4 linked regions of the Homo sapiens genome follow. The protein of the gene in region 1 purifies or fractionates together with the protein of each later gene. This does not show direct contact. Each region holds a gene or a part of one and is shown on either strand. Other genes may lie near its edges.

Region 1 (8,281 bases):
TAGCCGGGCGTGGTGGCGCATGCCTGTAATCCCAGCTACTTAGGAGGCTGAGGCAGGAGAATCGCTTGAACCCAGGAGGCGGAGGTTGCAGTGAGCCGCCGAGATCACGCCACTACACTCCAGCCTGGGCGACAGAGCGAGACTCTGTCTCAAAAAAAAAAAAAAAGATACTGTTTCTCCTACCGTGAAAATGCTCAATCCTGGGGCCCCCCTGCTGTGCCGCCCTCAGCCTGCACTTGCTTTCTCCTGCCACGGAGAGCTCAGTACCTCTCAGGACCCCTCCTCCCGCCACAGGGAGCACTCACATTGCAGATGCCACCGCGGCGGGTGAGCACACCGGTGCACACGTTGTTGGGGCGACACTGGTCCTCGGGGGTCACAGTCACGTTGACAAACCTGGGAAAACGGGAGAGACGCCCCCCACTGCGCTGGCTCCCCCAGCCGGCCACCTGGCATCTGGTGCCGGCTTCCACCGTGGCGTTCTGCAGAGGCAGTGGCAGTATCGTCACGCTGCTGGTGAGGTTGGCCTCACGGTCCAGCTGGGGAAGGAAATGGAGTCAGGGGAGGGTGGCCCTGGGGACTGGAGCCTCATGGGGACCCCTGGGAGCAGAAGTGTCAGCGACATTAACTGTAGTCTGTAAGTGGTTTGCGTTTAATTCCCGGCAGGGGCCGGGTGCGGTGGCTCACGCCTGTATTCCCAGCACGTTGCGAGGCCAAGGTGGGTGGATCACTTGAGGCCAGGAGTTCGAGACCAAACTGGCCAACAAGGTGAAACCCCCGTCTCTACTTTTTTAAATTTTTTAATGATATTTTTGAGATAATTTTATCATTTTCTCAAAGAAAAAAACCAAACATGAAAAACATTCACATGATTCTGTCATAGCAAAAGCATTTGAAAACGACGTCAGTCTCCACCAACAGGAGGCTCCATACGCGAACCGTGGTACATCTGTATGTGTTGCTGTATTGTTTTTGGAAGTTTTTTTTGAGATAGGGTCTGGCTCTGTTACCCAGGCTGGAGTGCAGGGGCGCGATCTCGGCTCACTGCAAGCTCCGCCTCCCGGGTTCAAGCGATTCTCCTGCCTCAGCCTCCTGAGTAGCTGGGACTAGAGGCGCCCGCTGCCATGCCTGGCTAATTTTTGTATTTTTAGTAGAGATGGGGTTTCACCATGTTGGCCAGGCTGGTCTCAATCTCCTGACCTCGTGATCCGCCCACCTCGGCCTCCCAAAATGCTGGGATTACAGGCATGAGCCACCTCACCCGGCAAGATACACACACACACACACACACACACACACACACACACACATATATATTTTTGTAGAGACTGAGTTTGGCCATGTTGCCCAGGCTGGTCTCGAACTCCTGACCTCAAGCCGTCCTTCCGCCTCGGCCTCCTGAAGCACAGGGGCCACAGGTGCGCGCCACCACTCCCGGCTAATTTTTGTATTTTTTTGTAGAGACCAAGTTTGGACTTGTTTCCCTGGCTAACGTCGGCCTCCCGAGGTGCTGGGATCACAGGTGGCACCATCCTCTCACCTGAAGCAGCATCAGGTCGTTCAGGTTCTGCTGGGGGTCGTAGCCATTCTCGCTCATGCTGCTGATGGAAAACGTCTGGCGGGACTGCCTCTCCCGCCGCCTCAGGTCATAGGCACCCAGCACCACGGTGCTAACCCCGGGGTTCCTGAGAGTAGCGGAGGAAAGGGCAGAGGGAGGACACCAGGCTGGGGCCTGGGCACAGAGCAAGCCGGCTTGCAAATTAGGGGGGATCCCAGCCTGCAGACTGCAATCCTTCACCCTGAAAACTCCCCCGCTTTTACAGAAGCAGAGCCGAGACTTTCCAGGGCCCCCTTCCCATCTTGAGCCCCTTCCCTTCTCTGCGCCTCCTCCTCCATCTGAGCCCCTTCTCTTCTCTGCGCCCCCTCCTCCATCTGAGTCCCTTCCCTTCTCTGAGCCTCCTCCATCTGACCCCCTCCCCTTCTCTGCACCTCCTCCATCTGAGCCCCTTCCCTTATCTGGGCCTCCCCCATCTGACCCCCTTCCCTTCTCTGCACCTCCCCCATCTGACCCCATTCCCTTATCTGGGCCTCCCCCATCTGACCCCCTTCCCTTCTCTGCACCTCCTCCATCTGACCCCCTTCCCTTCTCTGCGCCTCCCCCATCTGAGCCCCTTCCCTTCCCTGGGCCTCCCCCATCTGACCCCCTTCCCTTCTCTGCCCCTCCTCCATCTGAGCCCCTTCCCTTCCCTGGGCCTCCCCCATCTGACCCCCTTCCCTTCTCTGCACCTCCTCCATCTGACCCCCTTCCCTTCTCCGCACCTCCTCCATCTGAGGCCCTTCCCTTCTCTGCACCTCCTCCATCTGAGGCCCTTCTCTTCTCTGCACCTCCTCCATCTGAGCCCCTTCCCTTCTCTGCACCTCCTCCATCTGAGCCCCTTCCCTTCTCTGGGCCTCCCCCATCTGACCCCCTTCCCTTCTCTGCACCTCCTCCATCTGAGCCCCTTCCTTTCTCTGGGCCCCCTCCTCCATCTGAGCCCCTTCCCTTCTCTGGGCCTCCCCCATCTGACCCCCTTTCCTTCACTGCACCTCCTCCATCTGAGCCTCTTCCTTTCTCTGGGCCTCCTCCATCTGACCCCCTTCCCTTCTCTGGGCCTCCTCCATCTGAGCCCCCCAATATCCTTGGGTCCCTCCTCAACTCAGTCCCCATTTCCCTCTCCAAGCCCCCTCCTTTCCCTGAGCCCCTCCTTTTGCAATCCCCTCCCCTCCTCACCTACCAAGCACCCCCACTGAATGCCTAAGCCCCCCAAGCCCCTTCTCTGAGCCCCAATGCCCCCTAGGCCCCCTCCCCAGGACCCCTCACTGGCTTTGGAAGCAGCTGGCCGCGGTCATCACGAAGCGGGCATGGATCAGGGCACCCCCGCAGAAGTGCCTGCCTTGATTCTGAATGGAGGCCAGGAACGGGAACTGGCGGGGCCTCGCCTTCCGGCCGCCAACGATGTCCAAAAGGGGGCTGGAGCCTGGGTCGGGGGGAGACAGCTCTGAGATCCCCAAGAATCCACACAGTGGCCGGGAGGGCGTGTGAAGCTGCAGCCTCAGCTCTATCCACCCAGTGGGGCTGCGGGGGGACCCACCCTCCCCCATCGTCCCACTCCCTAAGAGGACAGGGGGCCCCTGAGTCCCGCACACCGTCCGCCCTCACGCCTTTCGCGGGATCGTCCAGGCCGGGCTGGCTGTGTGACCCAGGCCAAGCCGCTTGCCTTCTCTGTGCTTTAAGTCTGAGTTCTGCCCTGGCAGCCGGGCCCTAGCACAGATGGGGGACCACCGGCACAGAGAGGCACTCACCGGCCCTCGAGGACGCCAGCAGACCAGCCAGCAGGGCCAGGACTGTCAGCCGGGTCATGGCGGGGCAGGTCTGTGGCTAAGGCGGCGGCTGCCCTTATACACAGGCCTTGGCAGTTGGTGGCGTCCCCGCCCAGGCCCAGGGACAGCCCCACTCAGTGGGAACACGGGAAATTGCCCAAGGCCTCCACCGCCAACTGCTCCCTGGGCCAGCCTGGGCTCCCCCTACATTCTGCACTGATCCTCAGTTTCCCTCTCTAGAAGATGGCCACACCCCCAGGGGCAGGTGAGGGTGTCAGGAACCAGTGGATCCCGGAGCCCAGCACATGGCGGGCATGCAGCCAGCACCCAGGAACATTGCCAGCTCAGAGTCCCAGTCTCCCCATCCCAAGCCACTGGGGCTCCAGCACTGCCCGCTGGGCCTGGCACCGGGGGGCTCAGGGCAGTGGAGCTGGCAGTCCTGCGTTGAGTCCTGCGCGTCTGTATGGGTGATTATTATTATTATTATTATTATTATTATTTTGAGACGGAGTTTCGCTCTTGTTGCCCAGGCTGGAGTGCAATGGTGTGATCTCGACTCACTGCAACCTCCGCCTCCCAGGCTCAAGTGATTCTCCTGTCTCAGCCTCCTGAGTAGCTAGGATTACAGTTGTCCACCACCACGCCTGGCTAATTTTTTGTATTTTTAGTAGAGATGGGGTTTCACTATATTGGCCAGGCTGGTCTCAAACTCCCGACCTCAGGTGATCCACCCACCTCGGCCTCCCAAAATGCTGGGATTACAGGTGTGAAACACTGTGCCCGATTGGGTGATTTTTTTAAACTTTTTCAACAGCTTTATTGAGATATAATTGACAAGCTGGGTGCGGTGGCTCACACCTGTAATCCTAGCACTCTGGGAGGCCGAGGCAGGCAGATCACCTGAGGTTGGGCGTTCAAGACCAGCCTGACCAACATGGAGAAACCCCATCTCTACTAAAAATACAAAATTAACTGGGCGTGGTGGCACATGCCTGTAATCCCAGCTACTCAGGAGGCTGAGGCAGGAGAATCACTTGAACCTGGGAGGCGGAGGTTGCAGCGAGCCGAGATCGCACCATTGCACTCCAGCCTGGGCGACAAGAGCAAAACTCCATTTCAAAAAAAAAAAAGAAATTAGCTGGGCGTGGTGGCGGGCGCCTATAGTCCCAGCTACTTGGGAAGCTGAGACAGGATAATCGCTTGAACCTGGGAGGTGGAGGTTGCAGTGAGCCGAGATTGCGCCACTGCACTCCAGCCTGGGTGACACAGAGAGACTCCGTCTCAAAAAAAATAAATAAAAACAAATTAAAAACTATATAAAAATAAATAGACGAAATGTCCAGAACAAGCAAATCTGCAGAGGCAGGAAGTGGATCTGTGGTTGCCAGGGGCCGGGGGAGGGCAGGGGGTGATGGCTGATGGATGGAGATGGGGCTTCCTTCTTTGGGGTGATGGAATGTTCTGGGACTGGACAGCAGTGATGGTTGCACAAGTCGGTGAATGCACCGAAAACCACTTCACTGTACCGTTCAAAATGGCTAATTTTAAGTTATGTAAATTTCATCTCCTTCTTTTGTTTTTTTCAGAGTTGAGGTCTCGCTGTTGCCCAGGCTGGAGGGCAGCGGCACCATCTCAGCTCACTGCAGCCTCAATCTCCTGGGTTCAACTGATCCTCCTGCCTCAGCCTCCCGAGTAGCTGGGACCACAGGCACCCGCCACCGTGCCCGGCTAATTTTTGTATATTTTGTAGAGATGGGATCTCACTATGTTGCCCAGGGTGGAGTGCAGTGGCACGATCTCAGCTCGCTGCAGCCTCCGATTCCCGGGTTCCAGCAATCCTCCTGCCTCAGCCTCCCAGGTAGCTGGGACCATAGGCACATGCCACCATGCCCGGCTAATTTTTGTATTTTTTTGTAGAGGTGGAGTCTCACTATGTTGCTCGGGCTGGTTTGAAACTCCTAAGCTCAAGCAATCCACCTGCCTCGGCCTCCCAAAGTGCTGGGAGCACAGGTGTGAGCTACTGCGTCCAAACTCACCTCCATTTTTTACAAAGGGGCTCATTTCCAAGGTGAAACTGAGGTCTGGAGCTTACCGTGTCCCCCACACCCTTGGGGACACCAGTTTGTGTCTGGGCCTGTGGGAGCCCTCTGAGGGCAGTTTGCCCCTCCAAGGGGCGGATACGGGGAGAGTCCAGGGAGGCGGGGCCGGTGTGCCTTGAGGTCCGCTGCCCATCGGGAATGTAGGGTCCCAGGGCTCAAATCTGGTCTCCAGGCCGGGAGCGGTGGCTCACACCTGTAATCTCAGCACTTTGGGAGGCCGAGGCGGGCGGATCATGAGGTCAGGAGATCAAGACCTTCCTGGCTAACACGGTGAAACCCCATCTCTACTAAAGATACAAAAAATTAGCCGGGCGTGGTGGTGGGCGCCTGTAGTCCCAGCTACTCAGGAGGCTGAGGCAGGAGAATGGCGTGAACCCAGGAGGCGGAGCTTGCAGTGAGCCGAGATCGTGCCACTGCACTCCAGCCCGGGAGACAGTGAGACTCCATCTCAAAAAAATAATAATAATAATAATAATTCCGGTCTCCACTGAGTTTCACAGCCCAGCCACCTCACAGGGTCCATGGCACAGCCCCCAGATCCCTGCCTCCGTCCAAGCCAGCTCTCCCTCTCTGCCCACCCCGGATCCTACCTGTCCATCTTCCCTGCGGAGGCCCCAGCCTCCATCCACCCTGTCCTGGCCAAACGTGGGCCTCAGCTCTCCCGTGGGCCAGGCCCCATTTCCCCTCTGCCGGGAGCCGGAAGCTCTGTCCCTCCCAGTCGCATGACCTCAGGGCGAGCTCGCTGTCTGCACGTCAGTGTGCCCTGAGACAGGGATAGACTCTGCCTTCTAGACAGAACAGTGCTGAGCATGGAGTGGGGTTCATATTCTGAAAAGTTTTTGAGGCCGGGCGTGGTGGCTCACGCCTGTAATCCCAGTGCCTTGGGAGGCCGAGGTGGGAGGATCACTTGAGCCCAGGAGTTTGAGACCAGCCTTGGCAACATGGTGAGACCCTCTCTCTATTAAAAAAAAAAAAAAAAAGCTGGGCGCGGTGGCTCACGCCTGTAATCCCAGCACTTTGGGAGGCCAAGACGGGCGGATCACGAGGTCAGGAGATCAAGACCATCCTGGCTAACACGGTGAAACACCGTCTCTACTAAAAATACAAAAGAATTACCCGGGCATAGTCCTGGGCGCCTGCGGTCCCAGCTACTCGGGAGGCTGAGGCAGGAGAATGGCGTGAACCCGGGAGGTGGAGCTTGCAGTGAGCCGAGATCGCGCCACTGCACTCCAGCCTAGACGACAGAGTGCAACTCCGTCTCCCAAAAAAAAAAAAAAAGGCTGGGCTCCGTGGCTCCCCTGTCATCCCAGTACTTTGGGAGGCTGAGGCAGCAGATCAGCTGAGGTCAGGAGATCAACACCAGCCTGACCAACATGGGGAGATCCTCTTTCTACTAAAAATACAAAAATTAGCCCGTCGTGGTGGCAGGCGCCTATAATCCCAACTACTCGGGAGGCTGAGGAGGGAGAATCACTTGAACCCAGGAGGTGGGAGGTTGCAGTGAGCTGAAATCGCACGATTGCACTCCAGCCTGGGCGACAGAGCAAGAGTCCATCTCAAAATAATAGTAATAATAATAATAATCATTTTTAAATAAAAGTTTTGAGCAGCGTCTGGTACGCTCAACCCCTCCGGCCTGCTCGGAACTCTCCCATCACTCAAGCCCAGGCCCCACACTCAAGCCCAGGCCCCTCAGCCAAGCAACGTGCCCTCCATGGCCAGGCCTGCCCCATCTCCACCACTGGTGATCCTAGGGGGAGAAGACCCTGAGACTCCCCCAGATCTTCTGTTGGACCCCCAAGCTGCCAGGAGGGTCCCCCTGCACACTCTCCCACTCCTGACCTCAGAAGGCTCCTGAAAATCAATTGCATTTTCCTCCTCCTCCCCCAGAGAGCTGTTTGTGGTCACCTTGCAACACCCAGATTCCCAACGGCCACTCTGGCCCCGCCTCTCACAGGCCAGGAAAACAGCCGCAGCCACAGCAGGCAACGTCCCCCTTCTCCAGGGCTGTTGGGGAGGAACAGGATCGCATCGAATGGGACCCACCTGTGACCAACTGCTCACAGGGCCTCCCCGAGCCCCCCTGCAGGAACCGGGGGGCCAAAGACCCCTCCCCAGGCAGTCCGTGCAGTCCTGTCCCAGGAAGCTGGGCTGCCTCCGAGTCCATCCAAAGGTAGCAACACCATTGAGTTCCCATCCTATTCCCATCGCCATTTAACTGTTTCCGCATTTATGGCAGGCGACCCTCTTCCCGGGGGCAGCAGTGCCTGTTATGAGCAAACTAAGGTATCTAGCAGGGCTCCAACCCTCTGGAGTCACTGTTTGTTTGTTTTTTTTTTTTTTTTTGAGATAGAGTCTCCTTCTGTCGCCCAGGCTGGAGGGCAATGGTGCCATCTCGGCTCACTGCAACCTCCGCCTCCCAGGTTCAAGCAATTCTCCTGCCTCAGCCTCCCATCTGGCTGGGATTACAGGCGCCTGCCACCATGTCCGGCTAATTTTTATATTTTTAGTAGAGATGGGGTTTCACCATGTTGGCCAGGCTGGTCTGGAACTCCTGGCCTCAAGGGATCCTCCCGCCTCTGCCTCCCAAAGTGCTGGGATTATAGGCCTGAGCCACTGCACCCAGCCTGGAAGTCACTCTTTGTTTGTTTGTTTGTTTGTTTGTTTTGAGACAGAGTCTCGCTCTTGTTGCCCAGGCTGGAGTGCAGTGGCACGATCTCGGCTCACTGCAACCTCCGCTTCCCAGGTTCAAGCGATTCTCCTGCCTCAGCCTCCCGAGTAGCTGGGATTACAGGCATGAGCCACCACACCCTAAAAATTTT
Region 2 (7,790 bases), on another chromosome or scaffold:
CTCCTGACCTCGTTATCTGCTCGCCTCGGCCTCCCAAACTGCTGGGATTACAGGTGTGAGCCACCACGCCCAGCCCCTGAATAATTTATTCTAAAATGCACTGTAATTTGGGGAATATTAGAATATTTTGTCTCCAACTCAGATAGTTTAGGTTCCTACCTTGTGGGCTTATTTTGTTTATATTTAAATGGAATTCACTTCTATTTGTATTAAAATGTTTTAATGTGGCTGGGTGTGGTGGCTCACACCTGTAACCCCAGCACTTTGGGAGGCTGAGGCAGGCAGATCACTTAAGGTCAGGAGTTTGAGACTGGACTGGCCAGCGTGGTAAAACCCCACCTCTACCAAAAATACAAAAATTTAGCCAGGTGTGGTGGCTGGTGCCTATAGTCCCAGCTACCCAGGAGACTGAGGAAGGAGAATTGCTTGAACCCGGGAGGCAGAGGTTGCAGTGAGCCAAAATTGTGCCATTGGACTCCAGCCTGGGCAACACAGCAAGCTGCAGTGAGCCATGATCACACCACTGGGCATGAGCCATGATCACCCCAGCCTGGGCAACAGAATGAGACTGTCTTTAAAAAAAAAAAAAAAAAAAAAAAGGCTAATAAAATATTTCAAAAATTTAAAAATTGTATGTGCAGTATGAGTGCCATTAAGTTTTTAAAAAGCATAGTAAATGCAGCCTGGCATTATGGCTCATGCCTGTAATTCTAGTACTTTGGGAGGCTGAGGCGGGAGGATTGCTTGAGGGCAGGAGTTTGAGACCAGCCTAGGCAACATGGTAAAACCCCATCTCTACTAAAAATAAAAAAATTAGCCAGGGGTGGTGGCATGTGCCTGTATTTCCAGGCTGAGGCACAAGAATCGCTTGAACCCAGGAGGCGGAGGCTGCAGTGAGTCGAGATTGCGCCACTGTACTCTGGCCTGGGCAACAGGGCAAGACTCTGTCTAAAAAAAAAAAAAAAGCATAGGAAATGCATAAAAATATAACAACACTTACCTGTGATTTTGGGTCAAAGATAAGGTAGTTATGATTGTTTTTATTTTTTTAATACAGGTTGTACATGTCTTGAGGTTAGAAAAATCAAGCTAGCTATTTATTGATTGAATGTGTAGGCCTTGCACTGTAGACGTAACATCAGTATAGAGGTTATTTATCAAGCTGTAGCATGTTAGTGATCAATAACAAAACAGCTAAAAAAAAATGGCTCCTAGAAGTCATTTTTTTGTGGAATAATTTTCAAGTGTTTTAAGAAAAGCTATTTCTCCTGTTTTGTGTGTGTTTTTTTTTCTTTTTCAGCTTCAAGGTATTGCAGCATGCTGATTGAAGAAGGAGGATTGCAGCATTTATACAACATCAAAGATCATGAACATACTGATCCCCATGTCCAACAGATTGCTGTGGCCATTCTGGATAGCTTAGAAAAACACATTGTGCGCCATGGGAGGCCACCTCCCTGTAAAAAACAGCCCCAAGCCAGACTAAATTGATAGCCATAAGTATTGGATAGTTGAATCACAGGAATCCTTTTTGTGATTGGTCCATTTGGAATATCTTACCCTCCCTGATGTTTTGGGGGTTTCTATGACAAGAGTCATAAAATCAGTTTGGGATTGATAATGTGTAGTACTGCCCATGTGAACAGTCTCTAATTTGTCTTGTGATTTTAAACTTATGAGTCAAGAAGGGTCTCTTCCTTTATCATTGCCTTTTAGGAAATTTTCCACATCTTTCAGTGTTTGAACTTACTTGTGCTTGAGATTCTACAGTTTTATGGTAAAGTTTGCACGAACCCTTAGGCCAGACTTTTCTGATCTCAGAGTCCCTTCCAATCAATTTGCAGCTTCACATAAGCTGTTGACCTGATTTCTGACACTGCTTCAGTTGTAAATTTTATACTGCTTCTGTATAAAATGCCTTTCTTCTCTATCTGTGTATATTTTATAAGATGTCCTTCTTAGTGTGAAAGAAGGGAAATGTGGATCATCTTGTGGAAGCTAATCACTGGCAGGAGCCTGGATGGCTGGCGGAAAGATATATGAGAAAGAAAAATTATGAAGGTAGAACAGAGTGTAGGAACTGGGAATTGGTTTCATGGTATAGGTTTTAAAATGAGACAGGCTACCCTTCGGGAGTCCACCTCTCTTGAGGCGGTGAGCAGAAGCTTGTCCTCCATATTTATACCTAGAAGTGTGGACTGCTGGTTCCTGCACAGACTGCCGGTTATTCACTAGGAATATTTCCCCAAGCACCACAGTATAAAATACTACAGCACTCTGTGTTAAAGACTAACTGTCTACATCTCCATATGTTGTAGTGTTGTGAAAATGTGATTTTAAAAAATTATCGCCAGTTAAAACTGGCTATTCTTTTCCTCTATTTCAAAGTCATTTTTGTTCAGTGGAATAGAGACAGCAACATGGTGTTAACCTCTCAATTAAAATACAATTGACACCAGTAAATTTTGCCATAAAAAGTTAAAATCTCTTGTTCAAAATATGTGTATCTTCTTAATGTGTTCATGTTAGAGAAAGTGTCCCCATCTCACTGCCAAAAATGAAAGAAAATAATTAAACTCTTTAAATGATTAAATGTAATGATTCTACTCGCAGTGCATAACAGCACATATTTTTGACAGATTATTTTTTAGGCAATTACCTTTCCTTAAGGTATCTGATACAGTATAGTAAAGAATCACTTATATCAGTAATAGCACTTGAGAGATAGCAAGTCACCAAGAAACTTAATTTTCATTTAAAATTTTATTTTGTGAATAAGGTCAATCTACAATCCCAGATAACTACATTTTTTTTCATAGATGGCCAGTGTTTTCAACAGAGATTTAAAATGGAATATTAAAATTATAGTGATTATTCAGAAGCATTTTAATTTAGAAAGGAGCTGGTTTGTTAGTTCACTGATGACATTTTTTGACAAACATTTTATACCATTATCACAATAATCAGACTTGAATTTTTTTTGGAGTTCCTTCATGTGAATGAAAACTGAGTTAAAAGAAAGTAGGCATTTAGGTCTGGATGCAGTGGCTCATGCTTGTAATCCCAGCACTTTGGGAAGCTGAAGCAGGAGGATTGCTTGAGCCCAGAAGTTCAAGACTAGCCTGGGCAACATAGTGAGACTCGGTCTCTACCAAAAAAAAAAATTTTTTTTTTTTAAATTAGCTGGGTGTGGTGGCACCTGGGAAACAGAGCGAGACGCTGACTCAAATAAATATCTAAATAGATATTTAGAATCACTGAAAACCATATTAAATGCTGGGTTAATGCTGACTTAATTGGCTTAAGGAATTTTTATAGGCGTAAGATAAATTTTCACAGACTAAGTTTATTTCAGACAAAATAGAGAATTCTTTTAAAAGTTTTTTTTTTTTTTTTCCTTTTTCGAATGTTAATGTCTAAGACAAAGTTCAGAAAACGAGATGGCCTGTGGTAGTTTGGAAATTGCTAGATATGTTGACCGTTTCCAGGTCTTTTATCTAGTGTAGTTAAGGGAAAGCCTATTTAAGAAGTTTGGCTTCAAGTTTCTGTTTTATAAGACAAAAGTGCATATTTCTTTACAGGCTAATGCTAGGTTTTTGTCTTTACAAATTATTTTCAGAAATGGCTAAAAGTGTACAGAAAACAGTAAATCCCTTCTTTACTCAGAATAACTTCTTAATAGTTGAAGCATCCAAAATATGTAAAAGCAAGGGTGGGCGTAGTGGCTCTTGCCTGTAATCCCAGCATTCTGGGAGGCCGAGGCGGGCAGATCACTTGAGATCAGGAGTTCGAGACCACCCTGGCCAACGTGGTGAAACCCCGTCTCTACTAAAAATACAAAAACTAGCTGGGCATGGTGGCTTTTTTGCACGCCTATAGTCCCAGCTACTCGGGAGGCTGAGGCACGAGAATCACTTGAACCCAGGAAGTGGAGGTTGCAGTGAGCTAAGATCGTGCCACTGCACTCCAGCCTGGACAACGGAGTGAGACTCTGGGGAAAAAAAAAATTAAACTTCCTACTTTTTTTCTTTTTGTAGAGACAGAGTTTCACTCTGTCGCCCAAGCTGGAGTGCAGTGGCACAATCATACCTCACTGCAGCCTCTTGGGCTTATGTGATCTTACCCCCTCAGCCTCTGGAGTAGCTGGAACTACAGGCTAAATTTCCTACTTTGTAAACATCAGTAGTGGCCAGATACTTCTGAGTCTTAAAAGCATAATAGGCCGGGCGCGGTGGCTCACGCCTGTAATCCCAGCACTTTGGGAGGCCGAGGTGGGTGGATCACAAGGTCAGGAGTTCAAGACCAGCCTGGCCCAAATGGTGAAACCCTGTCTCTACTAAATATACAAAAATTAGCTGGGTGTGGTGGCGGGCACCTGTAATCCCAGCTACTCAGGAGGCTGAGGCAGGAGAATCGCTTGAACCTGGGAGGTGGAGGTTGTGGTGAGCCAATATCATGCCACTGCACTCCAGCCTGGGTGACAGAGTAAGACTCCGTCTCAAAAAAAAAAAAAGCATAATAATTTATTACATCCCAAATATATAAAAATTTGAGTGCCTTTGCAGTTGGGATGGTTCCTAAAATTGCGTATAGAATTAAGGCACAGAATTGTGTGTAAGGTCCTGAATCTGGCTAAAATACAGTGGATGTATGTATTGGAATTATGAGGCATAAGTAGCCAGTATCTATAGTTAGAATCTACAAGGCCTCCTTTTTGCACCTGTAGACTAGAATATAACTGTTATTGGTGCCTTTGAGTGTTATCTCTCAGTGGCTAGAGGTGCTGTTTCAAGCACAATTTAGACTAGGGTTGAACCACTCATTGTTCAAATCATTGGTGGGCTCCAATGTAAAATATCACTACATCAGTCCACAAGCAACATTAAGGAAATCTAAAGGAAATGGAATTTGACTTTTTAGAGTATAATGATGTTCTAGGGCATAATGAGGAAAATTTTTAAAAAATAGATTATAATGATACATATTGGTATCATTAAGACAACAGATTTGAGCAAATACAATTAAGGTGTCTTATTTTTTGCATCAAGTAATTATTGCTGTGGTCTTTCTACTCCACAAAATAATTTTTTCTTTTTGCAGTTGAAAATTAACTGCATTATTAACTAATTAATAAAATAAATCAAGTGGTATAAGGGATTAGTTTACCCTCAAGCCGATGACTCCATGGCTACTGATATTAGTTAGTTTAGGATTTTTAAAAAGCATATCAGACCCCCAGTTTCAGGAATTGAGTATAAATATTGCTTCTTGTCACCCTGGGACAGTAATGCCTTATAGTGGCACTAGTCACCTTAAGTAGATTACACATGGTTGAGGTGAATAAAGCTGCATGGGAATTTGCTTTCGTGATATATTTCATTTGCAAACTTCTACATAATCAAGTTTTATGTTTAAAACCATCGGTTCTATATATCTAGCTTTAGGAAGTTGCCCTTACAGGTGGGACCTTTTGTGTTAATCTGTTTTCTCCCCAGTCATCTTATTTGGCTATGTTAAAAAAAAAAAAAAAAAAAAAGCGAGAGAGAGAGATGGTGTCTCACTGTGTTGCCCAGGCTGGTCTCGAACTCCTGGCCTCAAGTGACTTTCCCACCTCAGCTTCCCAAAGTGCTGGAATCACAGGCATGAGCCACAGTGCCTGGTCTTAGCTGTGTTTTTAATTATGCCATGCATCAACATAACACCGGGCCATCTTCCTATCCCTTCCTATCCCATATGTTTAATGAAAACATATTTTATGTGCTAAATTAGGTTAATTTACCAGAGATTTAGCTTAGTGTTTTTAAACTATAGAACAATACCCCTATAGAACAATGTACAGCTGCACCCAAGGTTAAAAAGAGGTAGCAGGGAAAACAAACTTAAACTCTTTGTATATGGTGAAACCCATCCCTCTCCTGCCCTCTAATGGTATGTTTACATTATTTCGTTATTATACAATGTAGTGGTATAAACAGTATTATTAAACTGAAGGCATAAGTTAAAGGAAGTATGTTACTTTGAGCTGATGTAGGCTCTTCCACTTTTATCTGTATTTTACTTATTTGGGGACTTTGTATTGCTAGGGCTTCAGAATACTAACTTTGACACAGCTCCCAGAGAGGTTTGCAAACTTTTGGTTTCCCTCTCAAATCCATGGTAGTAGTTTCAAATGAGTTTGTGGATAATGGATGTTTAGTCCTTATCATTTGCTGTGTTTTGACAGTTTTTAATTTGCAGTATTCACTCACGAACTGTTTTATTTTAGGAATAATGCAAAACCAACCTTCGTCCGGTGATGAGAATAGCCGTATGATAAGAGAATTTGCTCATCGTGCTTTAAATGATTAACTGTTTTACCTTATTTAGTATTTCATAGACTTTGCATGATATGGTACACTCCTAATTATGCATTCTTTGGTTTCCAAATCTTAATCTAAGATACTTTGTTAACTGACTGGTAGCCTAAGAAAGAGACTTTTCTTCCTGTTTTTCTCTCTCCCCATTTTTTGGGGTAAGTTTTGCAAAGATCAGTGCTGCTTCTCATGACTCTAAAGTAAAGCTCTTTTGGATAGCACAGCCTAACTTTACAGCTAGACAGAATGGCCATTAAGAATATTTCCAAAATCCAAGTTTATCAAAATTATTTTGTGGGAAATCATCAATCTATTTTATTAATGTTATGTGTTTAATTTTGGACTTATTTTGGGAAAAACTGTTCAAATTGGGTCCTTTTAAGCTTATTTTAAGCAGCCTAGAAGGAAGAAGCTACTTAGCTAATGAAAGCTGAGACACTTTATTAAAAGCAGGATCTTAAGAGCATTGTTTTTCCTTAAAAACTTTATACTCTCAGATAATCTGCAACAACAAAAATTAAGAAATCCCTGACTTTTGTAGAATTCCCACTGTCAAATTCTCACTGACTTATGAGTGTGAGAGAAGTTATCTTTTGTTTGAATTCTGATAGAACAGTTTAACTCCTTTCTAAGGATATAAAAAATTCATTGGAAAGTGTGTATATTTCAAAGACTCTCAATTATCTGGACTGAAGGCACTGTTCTCACTATGGCCAGATGAATGGGAGTATTCTGTACATGAATCATGCTGTATTTTAAATCAGGACATCACTTAAGTATTAATGTTGTGTGTACAGATTTTTGTTTTGGGATTTTTTTTGCCTAAATAAATGTTATAAATTTTATGTAAAGTGTGTCTTGTCTACTTTTATTCTAGACATTTGGCTTTAAAAGTTAATATTAATGCAAACTTCAAATTCCTTAGTGATCCACTTGTAATGATTGCTTTCTGAAAAAGGCTACTTTTACTGGAGAAGTTTTTATTTTTATTTTATTTTTTGAGACAGGGTCTTACTCTGTCACTCAGGCTGGAGTGCAATGGCATGATCGTGGTGCATGCCACCACACTAGGCTAATTTTTTAATTTTTTGTAGAGACAGGGGTCTCCCTATGTTGCTCAGGCTGGTCTGGAACTCTTGTCCTCAAACTATCCTCGCTTCAGCCTCCTAAAGTGCTGGAATTATAGGTGTGAGCCACCACGCCCAGCCTGCAGACATTTTTAATACTGGAACATCATCCATTTCCTTTTTTTTTCCCCCCACTCAGCGTTGGCCTTGAACATTCATTTCCTTAAATACCTATGCTAAGTACTATTTAAGAGTTGTAACTTATATAACTTATAAATACTTCAGGGAACTTAAATTTACTGGAGAAGAGTAAATATTAAATAAACAGATAAATATTGCATAACAGTATATTAAAGACCAGTCCTCAATA
Region 3 (7,790 bases), 3.6 Mb from region 1:
CGCCCCTACAGACTGTGTCACACGCGGCATGACCCCTGCTGGGTGCTTCGTCCCCTTACCCAGGTGTGGAACTGCGGCCCGCTAGGCGGGAGCCCCCTCCCAGGCGGTCAGTGGGCCGCTGCTGAGTCAGGTCCAATGGAGGAAACTGTCCGTCTATCTTCCTGCTGTGGTGAGGAGGTCTCCCCGTGACCCTGCTCTCAGGGCCTGGTCAGCAGGTTTTTCTAGGAGTGGAGAGGAAAAGGAAGACAGGGCCGTCCTCCCAGAGCCTGAGTTCAGGGAGCCCTGGGTACTGCTTAACAGGAAATGAGCAGAAACGCACCAAGCTGCAGTGCTCAGGAAAAGTGCTTGCCAAATCCAGCCCTGCAAAAGGCGAGAGATAGAGAAAGAGAGAGACAGGCAGGCAGACAGACAGGAAGAAGGTGTGGAGAGGACAGACAGAGAGAGAGGAAGAAGAGGTGAGAGGGCAAAAGAAGGGAGAGACAGAGAGAAAGACAAGGGAAGAGTGAGAACAGAAAGAGAGGAAGAAGAGGGGGGAGAGATAGGGAGAGGAGGGGAGAGAAGGGAGAGAGGGAAACCCGCTGCAGCCCTGGCCACCACATTCTTTCATCCGCTTTCCAGGGACAGCTTCGAAAAAGAACCAGAAGAGACCGCCCCCTGACACTTCAGCTCACACATTAAAAAGCCATTAGAGTTGGAGAGCTCAGGTCCTGCTGAGATGCCTCCAGAGCCTGTTGAGCTCCTGACACCTACCCCACCCCCACCCCGGGGCAATGCTTCCCCTTCCAACCCTCCCGGCACTTAAAGACCTCAGGGGCTTGGAAAAGAGAAACATGGAGGCCGCTCTGAGCTTCTCCTCTAAGCTCTGCCCCGGGCAGCGCCGAAACCTGCGGCTGCCTCCGAAATCCTACTGGGGACGTTGGCAGCATGCTCCAAATTAAACACGACGTTTCCCCAGATCAGATCAGTTGCAAAACACTGGAAACAATCACGGAGGAGGAAAAGGGCTAAGGCAGCAGTGAAGGCTTGGCTGTACCCTAGGCCCCTGGATTAAAGTCCACTGGACACAGAGACACAGGCAGGTCTGAGCGGGACGGGCCTCAACCTGCAGGTTTCTCCTTTGAGGAAAAAATGCAACAGACACACACACAGACATCTGAGGGGCCCAGCTGCCAGCTCAGACCTCAGGTGCACTGCGCACGTGACAGCGGCCACCCCTGGGTGGCCAGGGGTGGGGTGAGCAGTGTCATGTTCTCTGTGTGCTTGATAGGTCTGGGGTGTCAAAATGTGACAGCCCCCAATTTCTTCAACTGAGCGGCATAAGGTGAGACACCTCATCTCGCACTCACAGGCTGTTATTAGGGGCACCTGGAATATAATTAAGTACTGCAGAGCTGGGCTTTAACACACACCCAGATAAGCAGGGCGATCAGCACCCACGGAGCCCCAACTGGTCTTTGGTGAACACGGGATTCTGAGTCAGAGACAAACTTTTAGCCGAACTTTCAGCCCTTGACTTGTTCTGGGACCTACTGTACAGCAGTCACGGGTGGCAGAAATCGGAGTCTGATGACCCCTTGGTCCTGGTTTGTTAAGAATGGGAAAACGTAGGATGCTGCTTGGTTACAAAGTGCCCAGTGACCACCAACAGCCAACCCTGTGAAGGGGGCCAGGTGAGCCAGGTTTCACAGACAGGCCCGGGGAGCCGTGGGGTGTAAGGAGCCTCTAGCTTCCTTTGGGGAAAGGCAGTCTCAAACTTCTGTGTCTGCACAGCCCAGCTGGCACACAGTTCAGGCCTCCACACAGCTGCTGGTTCCACCCGTCTGCAAGCCAGAAACAGAGTGAGCCCTGCCTGTCCTGGGGTGGCCCAGGGTCCACGCCGCCGGCTCCAATGCCGGCTCCAATGCCTCAAGGCACACACCAGTACATGCCGCACGTTCCTGGATTCAGTCACCAGAGCTTCCTGCAAGAACGGACTTAACTCCATTCCCATCATACGTGGACATCACAAAGCAAAGTCCCTTCCTACATCTGTTGCCAACACCTCCCCGAGGGAGAGGGGGCTTCCGGAGGTCAGCCTGCAGCTGCTGGACTCACCGGCCTTGTCCCGGGCACAGCCTCTGAATCACCAACGCCGGCCCTTACCAGCCCACACAAAAGTGCCTCTCAACTACCTGTCACTCCCAGCACAAGGGTATACACTTTTATCTGTGCCAAGGTGAAGGGGTTATGAACCCCATATTTTTGTATCTTAAGATTATTCCCACTGGCTCACGCCTGTAATCCCAGCACTTTGGGAGGCAAGGCAGGGAGATCACTAGGTCAGGAGTTCAACAACAGCCTGGCCAACATGATGAAACCCTGTGTCCACTAAAAATACAAAAATTGGCCAGCTGTGGTGGCGCACGCCTGTATTCCCAGCTACTCAGGAGGCTGAGGCAGGAGAATTACTTGGACCCAGGAAGCGGAGGTTGCAGTGACCTGAGATCGGCCCGCTGCACTCCAGCCTGGGACAGAGCAAGACTCCGTCACACACACACACACACACACACACACACACACACACACACACACACACACAAAAGATCATTCCATGTTTATGGCTTAACAAGTCAAGCACTTTGGTAGGAAAACCAAGAGTGGCCCCACAAAGTGAGGTTTTAAAAAAGAGGTCAGGGCCGGGCACGTGGCTCAGGCCTGTAATCCCAGCACAATGGGAGGCCAAGGCGGGCGGATCACCTGAGGAGTTCAAAACCAGCCTGGCCAACAAGGCGAAACCCCGTTTCTACTAAAAATACAAAAATTAGCTGGGCATGGTGGCAGGCACCTGTAATCCCAGCTACTCAGGAGGCTGGGGCAGGAGAATCGCTTGAACTGGGCAGCAGAGGTTGCAGTGAGACAAGATCGTGCCACTGCACACCACCTTGGGAGTGGGGACAGAACAAGACTGCATCTCAAATACGTAAAATTTTAAAAAATCATAACAACCCGGGCGTGGTAGCTCACACCTGCAATCCCAGCCCTTTGAGAGGCTGAGGCAGGAGGATCACCACCTGAGGTCAGGAGTTCGAGACCAGCCTGGTCAACACAGCAAAACCTCATCTCTACTAAAGATACAAAAATCAGCTGGGCGTGGTGGCACATGCCTGTAATCCCAGCTACTTGGGAGGCTGAGGCAGGAGAATTGCTTGAACCCAGGAGGCGGAGGTTGCAGTGAGGTGAGATTGCGCCACTGCATTCCAGCCTGGGCAATGGTGTGAGACTCCGTCTCAAAAACAAAAAAAACAAAAATAACAAAACAAACAAACAAAAAAAAACACCATCATAAATAAACTAAAAAAAGGTCAGGGCCAAGCACAGAGGCTCACGCCTGTAATCCCAGCACTTTGAGAGAATGAGGAGACAAGATCACTTGAGTCCAGGAGTTCAAGACCTGGAGTGGTGGGGTTTAAGGAGCCTCCAGCCTAGGCAACATAGTGAGACTCAGTCTCTACAAAAAAATTAAAAAATAAATAAAAATAGGCGAGGCACAGTGGCTCACTCCTGTAATCCCAGCACTTTGGGAGGCCAAGGCAGGTGGATCACGAGGTCAGGAGTTCGAAACCAGCCTGACCAACATGTGAAACCCCGTCTCTACTAAAAATACAAAAATGAGCTGGGCGTGGTGGTATGTGCCTGTAATCCCAGCTACTCAGGAGGCTGAGGCAGAAGAATTGCTTGAACCCGGGAGGCAGAGGTTGCAGTGAGCAGAGATCGCGCCACTGCACTCCAGCCTGGGCGACAGAGCTAGACTCTGTCTCAAACAAACAAAAAATTAATATTAAAATTTAAAAATAAATAAAAATAAAAATAGGTCAGAACAAGCAGTATCGTTGACATTCTGAAACACCAGCCATGTCCCAGACACTGCTTACTCTGACCTACAGCCCCCAAATAGGTGGGGCCCAGGATCCCCCGGCAGACAGTCCTCCCCCAACCCCCCTGGCCTCTCCTTTTCTCCTAGGCACAAACCCAGGGCCTAAGGAGCATCAGGCAGATTTCAAAGCTATGGGAGGTGACGCTTGTGAATGTCCCTCCTAGCTCAGTCTGAAGCAATCTTTCCATTCAAATGTTCAAACCCTCTCCCTCCTTTCAGGCAAAAAAAAAAAAAAAAAAAAGCCAGCATTCCAGGCAGCTGCCAGCTCTACCCCTAGTTACACTCTCAATCTCACACAGCCCGGCCACAAGATTTATCAGGAAGCCAGTTAGCAGCTTAAGCCTGGAAATAATGTCACCCAAACCCCCAGCACACCAAGGGAACTTCTGAGAGCAGCTCTCGCTAGCGGCATTCTTTCACCCTCCTTAGTCCCCCAGTTCTAGCTGCGCACGGATGCCAGGAGGCTCTTGAGGGAGTGGGTGTCACACAGGCAGAAAGGAGGGAACCAGGGAGATGGGACCATGACGGACGGCTTTTTACTGCTTTCTTCCAGATGATTCAACTTTCCCCAGCTCAGGCCCTCAACCAGTCTATGGCCAGTTCATGACAAGAAGTAAAAACTCACAAACTGCCCACTCAAGCCCAAACCAATTTTGAACAAGTTCCCAAAAGGTTTTGCAGGGAGATGAACTAGCCTGGAACCCACTAAGGTTCTTACCATTATCACCAACGAGAGATCAGAAACTCAGAACCAACAACACAGCCTCGCCTGTTAGAAAGTAAGTTTATCTTTTCCAGCACTCTCTCCCGCATCCTCCCGGCCTCTGTTGATCAATTTAGAAAGGACACCGTAAGAACCCTTGGAAGTCTAGAGCCTGGTTTAAAGCAGGGTTTCTTAAGCTCAACTCTACTGACGTAGGGCTGGAGAATTCTTCCTTTGCAGCGGGGGGAAGCTGTCCTATGCATTGTAGGATGCTTGGCAACCATCCCTGGCCCCTATCCCCTCGATGCCATGAGCATTCTCTCCCAAAGTTGCGATAACAACTGTCTCCGACATTGCCAAGCCAAGGAAGGGGTCTGCGCCATCCCCGGCTGACAGCGCTGATGGGCGCGTGCCCCTCCTTCAGGAGCCCCGATGCCTGTGGCTCTCAACTATTAAATCAAGTTCCAGCAAAGAACTGGAAACCTTTAAGCTGTGTATGGAACCATTGTGTGTAGCACTGGAAACTGTCCCTTTTCTAAGTCACTGTAAATGGTGTTTTTTTTTGGAGACAGGGTCTGGCTCTGTCTCCCAGGCTGGAGTGCAGTGCTACAATCAGGGCTCCCTGCAGCCCTGACCTCCTCAGGTGCAAGCGATAAAGGTTCCTCGTGATCAGCTGGAAGGTACTTTTGAATTAAAGGTTCACACTGAAGAACCTAAGTGGATAGTGGCATTTGAGGCCAGCAGTGAAAGTGTTTCCTCTCAAAGAGTTCCCTACACAGCAGCAGACATGGTTATTCTGAGAGTCATGTATGTTCTGTGTTTCTCTGTGAACCATGTTTCAGTCTTTGTTTCTGTCATCATATGTACGGGAAATTCCATAGAGACTACATCACACAAAACTGACATTGTCAATTACCAGGAAATACAGGTGCTCACCTTTTGAAGGCTTATTCATACATATGGTTGCCACAATACGTATATATGATAAACAGTGTATGTATACATACAAGTTGTTTAGGCCAGGCACGGTGGCTCACACCTGTAATCCCAGCACTTTGGGAGGCTGAGGCGGGCAGATCATGAGGTCAGGAGTTCAACACCAGCCTGACCAACATGGTGAAACCCTGTCTCTACTAAAAATACAAAAAAAATTAGCCGGGTGTGGTGGCGCACCTGTAATCCCAGCTACTCAGGAGGCTGAGGCAAGAGAATCGCTTGAACCCGGGAGGCGGAGGTTGGTCTCAGTAAGCCAAGATTGCGCCACTGCACTCCAGCCTGGGTGACAGAGCAAGACTCTGTCTCAAAATATATATATATATATACAGTTGTCACAATATGTATATGATAAACGGTGTACATATACACATAAAATGTTTATGGTGGATCTAGCTCCCCCCTAAAAAAGAAGCCCAGATACTGAAAGACACTCGAATTTTCCTAAAGACTTGAGGGTGGGCTCGACCTTAGGGTCTGGATGCTGAGTTTTATGTAAATATCTACCTGTGGGGCGGGGTGCCATGGCTCATGCCTGTAATCTCAGCACTTTGGGAGACTGAGGCAGGTAGATCACCCGAGGTCAAGAGTTCGAGACCAGCCTGGCCAACATGGTGAAACCCCGTCTCTACTAAAAATACAAAAAAATTAGCGGGGCATGGTGGTGGGTGCCTGTAATCGCAGCTACTCGGGAGGCTGAGGCAGGAGAATTGCTTGAACAGAGGAGGCGGAGGTTGCAGTGAGCCGAGATCGTGCCATTGTACTCCAGCCTGGGCAACAAGAGAGAAGCTCCGTCTCAAAAACAAACAAACAAACAAAAACAAACTACACATGTGGCTATCTGTGTTTAGCAAACTAGGAAAATCTTTGTTTTATTTTATATTTTACTTTTTTTTTTTTTGAGACGAAGTCTCGCTCTCATCCACCAGGCTGGAGTGCTTCCCAAACTGCTGGGATTAAAGGCGTGAGCCACCACACCTGGCCAAACTAGGAAAATCGTAAGAATGGCTCAGTGGGGATTTTTTTGTTCCTTTGTTTTGGTATAATTATCCTCATTTTTTTTCCAAATCTTCAAGCAGGGTTTCTCAAATTTTGGTACTATTGACATTTGGGGCCAGGTAATTCTTGGGGGCAGTGGGGAGATGCTGCCCTGGGCACCGGAGGATGTCCAGCAATATCGTCTACCTACTAGTAGCCAGCAGCACCGCACCAAGCTGTGACAACCAAAAAGGTCCCAGACATTGTCAATGTCCCCTGGAGGACAGAACTGGCCCTGTTTTACAGGAAGATAAATGTCCCCTAATCCTTTTGTGTAAAAGGGGGAATGTTTTTTACCCTTAGACCGGATAAGCAAGACCAGCTGAGACCTACTGGTATAAAGCATACTGCCTGCTCACATGGTGAGAACTCAATAAATGTTTGTATCACTACGTAATGAGAGATCCCGAGAGATGTCACTTTCCAACAGGCACAGCAGAGGGTGAAAGAGTTGTTATTAGACTAAAAACAAAAAAAGAGACACAAATAGTCGGATACGTCCAGATAACAGCTGAGATGTCAGAGGGAACCATGGCAATGATCACAGAAGAGCATGGAACGCAGCCAGGGTGACTTCTAAGAGCACGACTCAGGACAGAATTGACCAGGAGGCCAAGACGACAGCCCCGAGGGTGGGCTGTGGCCATTGTGCTTTGGGACTAGGCCTCGGGATGTGGAAATAGGCAATCCTAAGCCCAGCTAACACCACACTGTCCTTTCCAGGCTTCAAGGCGCCATTCACAGATCTGAACGCAGGTCATCCTGCTTCCCTTGAGAGAGACAAAGTCCTGGTGGCCGGCACAAGAGGCCTGGTTCATTCCTCTAAAGAGGGTGTCAGCTCAGGACAATATGGGCACAGGCCCTGATCGCTGGGAGTGGGGGTGGTGGCTTCCAGAGACCTGTCTATAGCAGGGAACAAAGTGGCCCAGGAATTCCTCCAAGACCTCTGAGGACATCTTTCCTGCTAGGGAGCAGTACTCTATGGTGCTCTAACCAAGCAGGTGAAGGTCTGACGCCTGCTGGGCAAGGTCTAACCCAGGGCCAGGCCATCTGATTTCAAAGTGCTGGGGCAAGGGGGTGGGACTGTTCTCAGTGACAACTCTAAAATTCGTCTGGATTAAATCTTTCTCCAGGGTTTAACCA
Region 4 (7,790 bases), on another chromosome or scaffold:
TGGTGACTTCAAGTTGAAGCCAATAATCATTTACCATCCTGAAAATTCTAGGGCCATTAAGAATTATGCTAAATCTCCTCTGCCTGTTTTCTATAAATAATAAAGCCTAGATGACAGCACATCTGTTTACAGCATGGTTTATTTTAAGCCCACCATTGAGATCTACTGCTTAGAAAAAAAAAGATTCCTTCAAAATATTATTGCTCATTGACAACACACCTGATCACCCAAGAGCTGTGATGGAGATGTACAAGGAGATTAATGTTGTTTTCATGCCTGCTAACACAACATCCATTCTGCAGCCCACTGATCAAGGAGTAACTTTGACTTTTAAGTCTTATTTAAGAAATATATTTCATAAGGCTATAGCTACCATAGATAGTGATTCCTCTGATGGATCTAGGCAAAGTAAATTGAAAACCTTCTGGAAAGGATTCATCATTCTAGATGCCATTAAGAACATTCGTGATTCATGGGAGATCAAAGTATCAACATGAATAGGAGTTTGAAAGATGATTCCAGCCCTCACAGATGACTTTGAGGGATTTCAGACTTCAACGGAGGAAATAACTGCAGATATGGTGGAAACAGTAAGAGAACTAGAATTAGAAGGGGAGTCTGAAGATGTGACTCAATTCCTGCAATCTCATAAGAAAACTTTAACTAATGAGAAGTTGTTTCTTATGGACGGGAAAAGAACGTGGTTTCTTGAGATGGAATCTACTCCTGGTGAAGATGCTATGAACACTGTCAAAATGACAACAAAGGATTTAAAATATGACAGAAGCTTAATTGATAAAGCAGGGTTTGAGAGGACTGACTCCAATTTTGAAAGAAGTCATACTGTGGGTAAAATGCTATCAAATAGCATCATGTGCTATAGAGACATCTTTTATGAAAGGGAGAGTCAACTAATGCAGCAAACTTCATTATTATCTTATGAAATTGCGATAGCCACCCCAACCTTCAGTAACTACTACCCTGATTGGTCAGCACCCATCAACATTGTGGCAAGACCCTCTACCAGCAAAAAGATTATGACTTGCTGAAAGCTGAGATGATCGTTAGCATTTTTTAGCAATAAATATTTTTAATTAAGGTATGTATGTTTTTTAGACAATTCTATTACACATTTTATAGACTACAGTATAGTATAAACACAGCTTTTTTTTTTTTTTTTTTTTTTTAAGAAATGGGGTCTCATGCTGTCATCCAGGCTGGAGTGCGGTGGTGCAATCATGACTCACTGCAGCCTCAAACTCCTGAGCTCAAGTGATCCAAGTAGCTGGGACTACAGGCCTGTCACATCACACCCGGCCAAAACGCATAACTTTTATATGCAATGGGAAACAAAAAAATGTGTGTGACTCACTCTATTGTGATATTCAGTTTACTGCAGTGATATGGAACTAAGCCCACAATATCCCTGCGGTATGGCTGTACAGTATAAGAATCACCTGAAGGGCTTATTAAAAACAGCTTGCTTGACCCCCTCCCTTAGAGATTCCGATTCAGTAGATCTGGGTTGGTCAAGAATTTGCATTTCTAACAAGCTCCCAGCTGAGGCTGAGGCTGCCATTCAACATACTACCAAGTAGCACTGGCATAGAGAGATCCCTGGAATAAAATTTACCTACTTGTGTGTGTGTGTATGAATGTGTGTGTGTGTGTGTGCGTGTGCATGTGCGTGTGTGTGTATACAGTCTTGCTCTGTTGCCTGGGCTGGAGTGCAGTGGCGTGATCTCGGCTCACCATAACCTCCGCCTCCCAGCTTTCAAGCGATTCTCATGCCTTAGCCTCCTGAGTAGCTGGGATTATGGGGTGCGCCACAACGCCTGGCTAGTTTTTGAATTTTCAGTAGAGACTGGATTTCACCATGTTGGCTAGGCTGGTCTTGAACTCCTGGCCTCAAGGGATCCACCTGCCTCAGCCTCCCAAAGTGCTGGGATTACAGACATGAGCCACCATGCCCAGCCCTTACTTGTATATCACAATAGTGAGATGATTACTTTTCAACTTTCTTCTTTGTATTTTTTAGGTATTTAAATTTTTTTACAATGAATGTTCCATCTTTACCCAAACAATAAAATCTTTATTGTAAAGAAAGTTAGAAGCAAGAAACATTAACATTTTTTATAACTACAATTTGTATAAAAGCTTTCTCTGTGATCTTTAGTTTTTCTTTCTTCCTCTGAAAAGCTGAATAGTGTTTAATTAAACTCTCAAAAGTATCAAGTTTTTGTCTATAAAATGGCAAAACTGGCTATGATGAAATAAACTGATATTTGCTATTTCTAATAAAAGCATACAATATATTCTTTCTTACCAGATTCAAATAATATTTAACGCCAACATATTAGTCCAAGTCCTATCATCAGTCAGATTTATCAGAAAGGTATGAAAACCCATGCCTACTATAAGGACCAAAATAGCCTAATTCAATACTACTTTGAAAACATGGGGATGATGTTACTACGTAATTGTTTTAAGTACAATAACCACTGATCACATTTGAACTCTCAGGATACTTCAATATTTCTTTTGGACAACTATGACCTGTTTAGTAAATTACCCCCAAATACTTTAATATAGTTTTACAAATCGCCCCAATGCCAGAGACCCAGATCAAAAAGAAAATAATGGTATGGGTCAGATTCACAGAATAAGCACTAACTTTTATGCAAACTGAAAATAAAGATTTTATCTAAAAGTTATTTGGGGAAAATAAGCAGACTTTATCAAGAATTAGAGCTTGGTAAGAAGGTAACAGAAACCCATTGTGAGAAACAGGTTGACTCTGTGTAGCTTTCCATAGTAGAGTTTAGAGTTTCTTGTCATGATTACCTTATCAATGCAGTATAATAACTACTTACACAGCACTTACATTGTATTAGGTATTATAAGTAATCTACAGATGATTTAAAGTATATGGGAGGATGTGCATAGGTTATAGGCAAATACTACACCATTTTATGTAAGGGACTTGAACATTAATAGATTTTGGTATCCTCAGAGGTTCTGGAACTAATACGCCATGGATGCCAAGGGACAACTGTACTTAGAAGTAGAACGTCTCTGCTCTTCCTACATGTCCTTATTTTTAACAACTTCTGTTCTTACAAATAATCCTAAATCAATCAATAAAACTTCCAATTCTATTAACAGCTTAAAAGCACCAAGAAATACTCTGATCATTCATTCAACTGCCAAAGAAAATGACAAACGAGTACTTTTCCTCTTTTAAACCAAAAAAAGTTTTTGGTTTAATACTAACAAAAGCTTTAATACTCATTTTAGATATTCCTCTAATACATCTATTTACAATATATCACAGAACTATATTCTGGTTATTAATAATCTCACTTCTTACCAGGGTCTGCTAATCCAGTGGTCTCTAACAGTATGTCATCAAATTTCCCCTTCTTTTGCATCAAATTCTCAATAGCTCTAAGGCCATTGTCCCTGGAGAATACCAAAACATAATTTACAGTTAATTACCTAAATATTTTGAAGTGATTATTATAAACACTTTAAAATGTATTCAACAACCCGAGACAAAAGTATCCTTAGGAATGTGAAAATTTAACTCACTTCTAACCTTCTAACAAAATGTCTGTCCCATATTTACCAGTGAGAAAACAATAGATGCATATATATAATAGGTAAAAAGAAATCATATACATAATAATACTTTATTAAAATTAAAAGCAGAGGAAACTTTATCTGACCAAGTATCTTTTTATAGCTTTATGAAATTTTTAAAAACCAACATACAAAATAATGATAAAATTTATTAACTATAGTAGTTTAATATAATAGCTAAAGGGACACTGATATTAAACACCATATAATTCTATTTTACATTAGGATGCAAGGTTTTAAATTCCTTTTTTCTTATTTTATCAAAAGTGAAGGAAAATCCTTAATAGATTACATTTTGGTTGTTCAAGAAAGTCTGTTATAATTTTATCCTTGCCAAAACATTTGACACAAAGTCAAATACCTAAGGGAGTAAATGATGCCGAAGAGATTTAATTCACTAGAATACACAAAATTAACAATACAAGTAGTCATTTTTATAATTCATTCAACAAATATTTGAGTGCTACTATGTGTTGGGTAACTCTTCTAGGGTCTATGGTAGACTAGTGATCACTGTCCTTGGAAACTTAACTACTAGAACATAATGTAAGGTTTTTCTTTTTTGATAGTCATTTATTTTTTATAAGGTTGAACACTTAGAAGTATGACCAATGACAGATTAAATTCAGAATAATCATTTTTTACATATGAGACTTTCATGCACTAGAGATTAAATAAGCCCTGACATCAAAAGCAATAAAAACTCAATAAAAGGACCAAAACATTAGAGCAGATAGAAAAGACAGCAAGAAACACTTTAAGAAAATGCTTCCTAATAAGTTTATTTTCTATTTGTTTGAAAATACAATGAAGCAAACTGTGTAAATTCAGTTAAATTACTCAAGAAAATTAAAGCTGGAAATATAATCAATAAACATTTCTAGTAAACCATGTACACAGTAAACACATTCCTCACTTCACTGAACAGCAGAGGCAACCGTTTCTAAGTTCCAGCCACTCTTCATAGAGCTCTCCACCTTGGCTGACAGCTAAGGATTTCTCCAGCGCACTTCCTAGAATAAATAACAAACAGCACTCTTTAGCTTATGTCCATTAGCCAACAAAAAACAAAGATGAGGATAACTCAATAATGGAGATCTTAAAGCAGAAACTGCATTTTATAACTTATATTCTTTCACTTTATTCATGCAGCCTTGATACCTAAATTACAGTACACTACATTATTTTAGCTTTTATTTAAGATGTCTTAAGCCCTGAAAAAGACACATCCTAAACTGATAAACATACCTACTTCCTCCTTAGGCCTCTTACTTGGCCACCCCCATTTCTTAATGAAGGCATTTTTTTCTTGTCCAGGGTAAACTTTCTAAATCGACTAGTATGTTTTATATACTGGATTCTGTATGCCCTTCAACCTCTTAAGAGACTGCCTTATCTTTTTCTTTTCATTCTTCTTCTAAATTGTTTCTGTTAGACAAACTGCTGAATATTCCCAATGAGTAAAAACCCTAGTTCATCCTGAGGAAGGTTTTTGGCCAGTGTACCATGTGCTCATTTAAAAATTAAACTTATAGGGAGGCCAAGGCGGGCGGATAACGAGGTCAGGAGATCGAGACCACCCTCGCTAACACAATGAAACCTCATCTCTACTAAAATTACAAAAAATTAGCCAGGTGTGGTAGCGGGCGCCTGTAGTCCCAGCTACTCAGGCGGCTGAGGCAGGAGAATGGCGTGAACCCGGGAGGCGGAGGTTGCAGTGACCCGAGACTGTGCCACTGCACTCCAGCCTGGGCAACACAGCGAGACTCCATCTCAAAAAAAAAAAACCTAAACTTTTAGTCAAATTCACATATTTTCCTAGCAATACTTACTTAAGAAAGAATAAACTATATTTGAAATGCTTGTTATCTATAAGAATTATTTTAAATGTTTTACTTTTCCTCTAATAAAGAAATATACCAAACGGTGAAGTTCTAAAAGTCCACTAAGCAAATGAGCTCCCATAAAATCGAGTAGTTTTACACTTACATATTTTTTATATTTCAGCTAGGTATTAATAAAGAGCTTCTAAAGAGGTTGCTACAGAATTCGGACTATATACAGAACATTAATGAAACATGAAGAAAAGTATTGAGAATGCTGTGAAAAATAAAATTGTGAAAATGATCCAGGAAAAAATAAAGAAAATAGTAAGAATAAATGTAATCAGTGTGCAATAGGTTATTTAATAAGATGATGAAAAAAACAGTCTGTTATTAGAAATCTCAGGATTTTTGCCTAAAAAGCACTTTTCTCTTTAGTTTATTAAAATCAGAAATCGAATATAACTGGAATATAACTGGCTTCCCATCCTGTTCATAAAACCTAGCTCTTTTACTTTTTACAACTGAAAAAAATAGTACATTTTAAAAGAAATCGTCTAATAGATATTGTTTTTTGGCTAGAAGTGAGCTTTGATTACAATTCATACTTATGAAGAAAAACTCCTATAAAGATAACAGAAGTATTGTGTCTAGAGCTATTTTTTTTTACTACAGTTTAATATTTGAGTTGAGAAGTTAAGCACACTTATTTTCACAGATAAAATACATGAGGATAAAGACCATATGTTTACTTTCTTTTTAAAATATTGAGTTTTAACTGCATTGCAGATAATAAACATTAAACAAAGTTAACTAATAACAGAAGCATTTTCAAATATTTTTCATGAGTTGCAATAGAGTCCATACAAAACTGCCTTTCTAATTCCTAAAAAAGACATTTTTTGGCCAGGCATGGTGCCTCACGCCTGTAATCCCAGCAACTTTGGGAGGCCGAGGCGGGTGGATCATAAGGCCAGGAGCTCAAGACCATCCTGGCCAACATGGTGAAACCCTGTCTCTACTAAAAATACAAAAATTATCTGGGCATGGTGGCGCATGCCTGTAGTCCCAGCTACTCGGGAGGCTGAGGCAGGAGAATCACTTTAACCCGGGAGACAGAGGTGGCAGTGAGCTGAGATTGCACCACTGCACTCCAGCCTGGCAAGAGAGAGACTCCATCTCAAAAAAAATAAAATAAAATAAAAAATAAACGTTTTTTCATATGTCTAGATTTTTACTTCTGGAGTCATTTATTTCATGTAAAAATGTAGTTTAATTCTGTTAATAAGAATTCCAAAGTTATACAAAATAAAATTTTATTAAAACTAATTTCAGTATCTCAACCCATATAAATCTTAACAGAAATTAATCTAATTTTTCTAAAGCTATCCACATCAATACAATACCTTGCATTTTCATTTTTAAATATGGAATATCAATTCACCAGAGGAATAAACAGTCACACAAAATCTTGCAACATGACATTTATTGAACTTTACTTACCTTCCCCAGATTCATTTAAAATGACCGCTACTCTTTTACTATGTTGCTCTGTCAAAATATAGTTCAGAAGTGTTGTCTTCCCAGCACCTATAAAACATATTTTTTGTAAATAAAAAAATTCAAAATAATTTTAAAGATACAAAAAACATATAAAGAATCCTAACGTTTTTGAGAATTTGCATGCTATTTTTCATATATTATTTTAGTATAGAATATCCTAGAGGATAAGATTAAAGCATCCTTTGAAACCTGTTGCAAAATACTTTATGTAGACATAAAATTTTATAAATATTTACAAACACTCCTACAAGTTGAAACAGTTTCTTCAACCTAGCCTAACCTTCCCTAAAATTGACACACAATCTTTTATTTATAGTGACCTTTTATTTCAACATTAACGAGACGCAACTTCAGGCTGACTATATGGCTACTTATAGTATGCTTTAAACAATCTATAAAAGTTTTTATGAAATGGGGAATAGAGCCAGGTAGTGTCAACAATGAACAGAATGTTCAGTTAAGATAAATTCATAAAGCTATACCAACTTTATCCAGCAGGTGGCATATGAAACCCAATATGTCAATCTCCAGTAGAAAAAAAAGTCTTGTGAACCGTACACACTAAAATTCATAGAGGAAAAAAAGAAAATCCTAACTGCATAGTATTGTAGTTCAATTGTATGACTATATCATTTCTTTATCTTTTTTTTTGTTGGACATTTGGTTTGTTTCCAGTGTTTTACTATTACAGTGCTGCTAAAAACTTTTACATGTAGGCTATACATGTCTTCTGAAATAAAGTTTTCTAGTATATAACTAGAT

Evidence for each region.
Region 2: the proteins of AZU1 (region 1) and ZYG11B purify together in Homo sapiens (affinity purification with mass spectrometry; 4 studies listed by BioGRID and IntAct, with this or other methods). This does not show direct contact.
Region 3: the proteins of AZU1 (region 1) and SH3GL1 purify together in Homo sapiens (affinity purification with mass spectrometry; 4 studies listed by BioGRID and IntAct, with this or other methods). This does not show direct contact.
Region 4: the proteins of AZU1 (region 1) and ZNG1C purify together in Homo sapiens (affinity purification with mass spectrometry; 3 studies listed by BioGRID and IntAct, with this or other methods). This does not show direct contact.

The regions. Positions count from the first base shown.
Region 1 is NC_000019.10:822,966-831,246, reverse strand, and holds the start of AZU1 (azurocidin preproprotein), read right to left. Parts: upstream 3,411-8,281; 5' UTR 3,401-3,410; coding exon 3,343-3,400; intron 3,018-3,342; coding exon 2,861-3,017; intron 1,686-2,860; coding exon 1,541-1,685; intron 540-1,540; coding exon 306-539; intron 1-305. UniProt on the Homo sapiens protein: This is a neutrophil granule-derived antibacterial and monocyte- and fibroblast-specific chemotactic glycoprotein. Binds heparin.
Region 2 is NC_000001.11:52,820,139-52,827,928, forward strand, and holds the end of ZYG11B (protein zyg-11 homolog B), read left to right. Parts: intron 1-1,300; coding exon 1,301-1,491; 3' UTR 1,492-7,198; downstream 7,199-7,790. UniProt on the Homo sapiens protein: Serves as substrate adapter subunit in the E3 ubiquitin ligase complex ZYG11B-CUL2-Elongin BC. Acts to target substrates bearing N-terminal degrons for proteasomal degradation with the first four residues of substrates being the key recognition elements.
Region 3 is NC_000019.10:4,389,993-4,397,782, forward strand, and holds part of SH3GL1 (endophilin-A2), read right to left. Parts: intron 222-7,790; exon of another isoform or gene 60-221; intron 1-59. UniProt on the Homo sapiens protein: Implicated in endocytosis. May recruit other proteins to membranes with high curvature.
Region 4 is NC_000009.12:68,244,478-68,252,267, reverse strand, and holds part of ZNG1C (zinc-regulated GTPase metalloprotein activator 1C), read right to left. Parts: intron 7,056-7,790; coding exon 6,969-7,055; intron 4,656-6,968; coding exon 4,559-4,655; intron 3,463-4,558; coding exon 3,371-3,462; intron 1-3,370.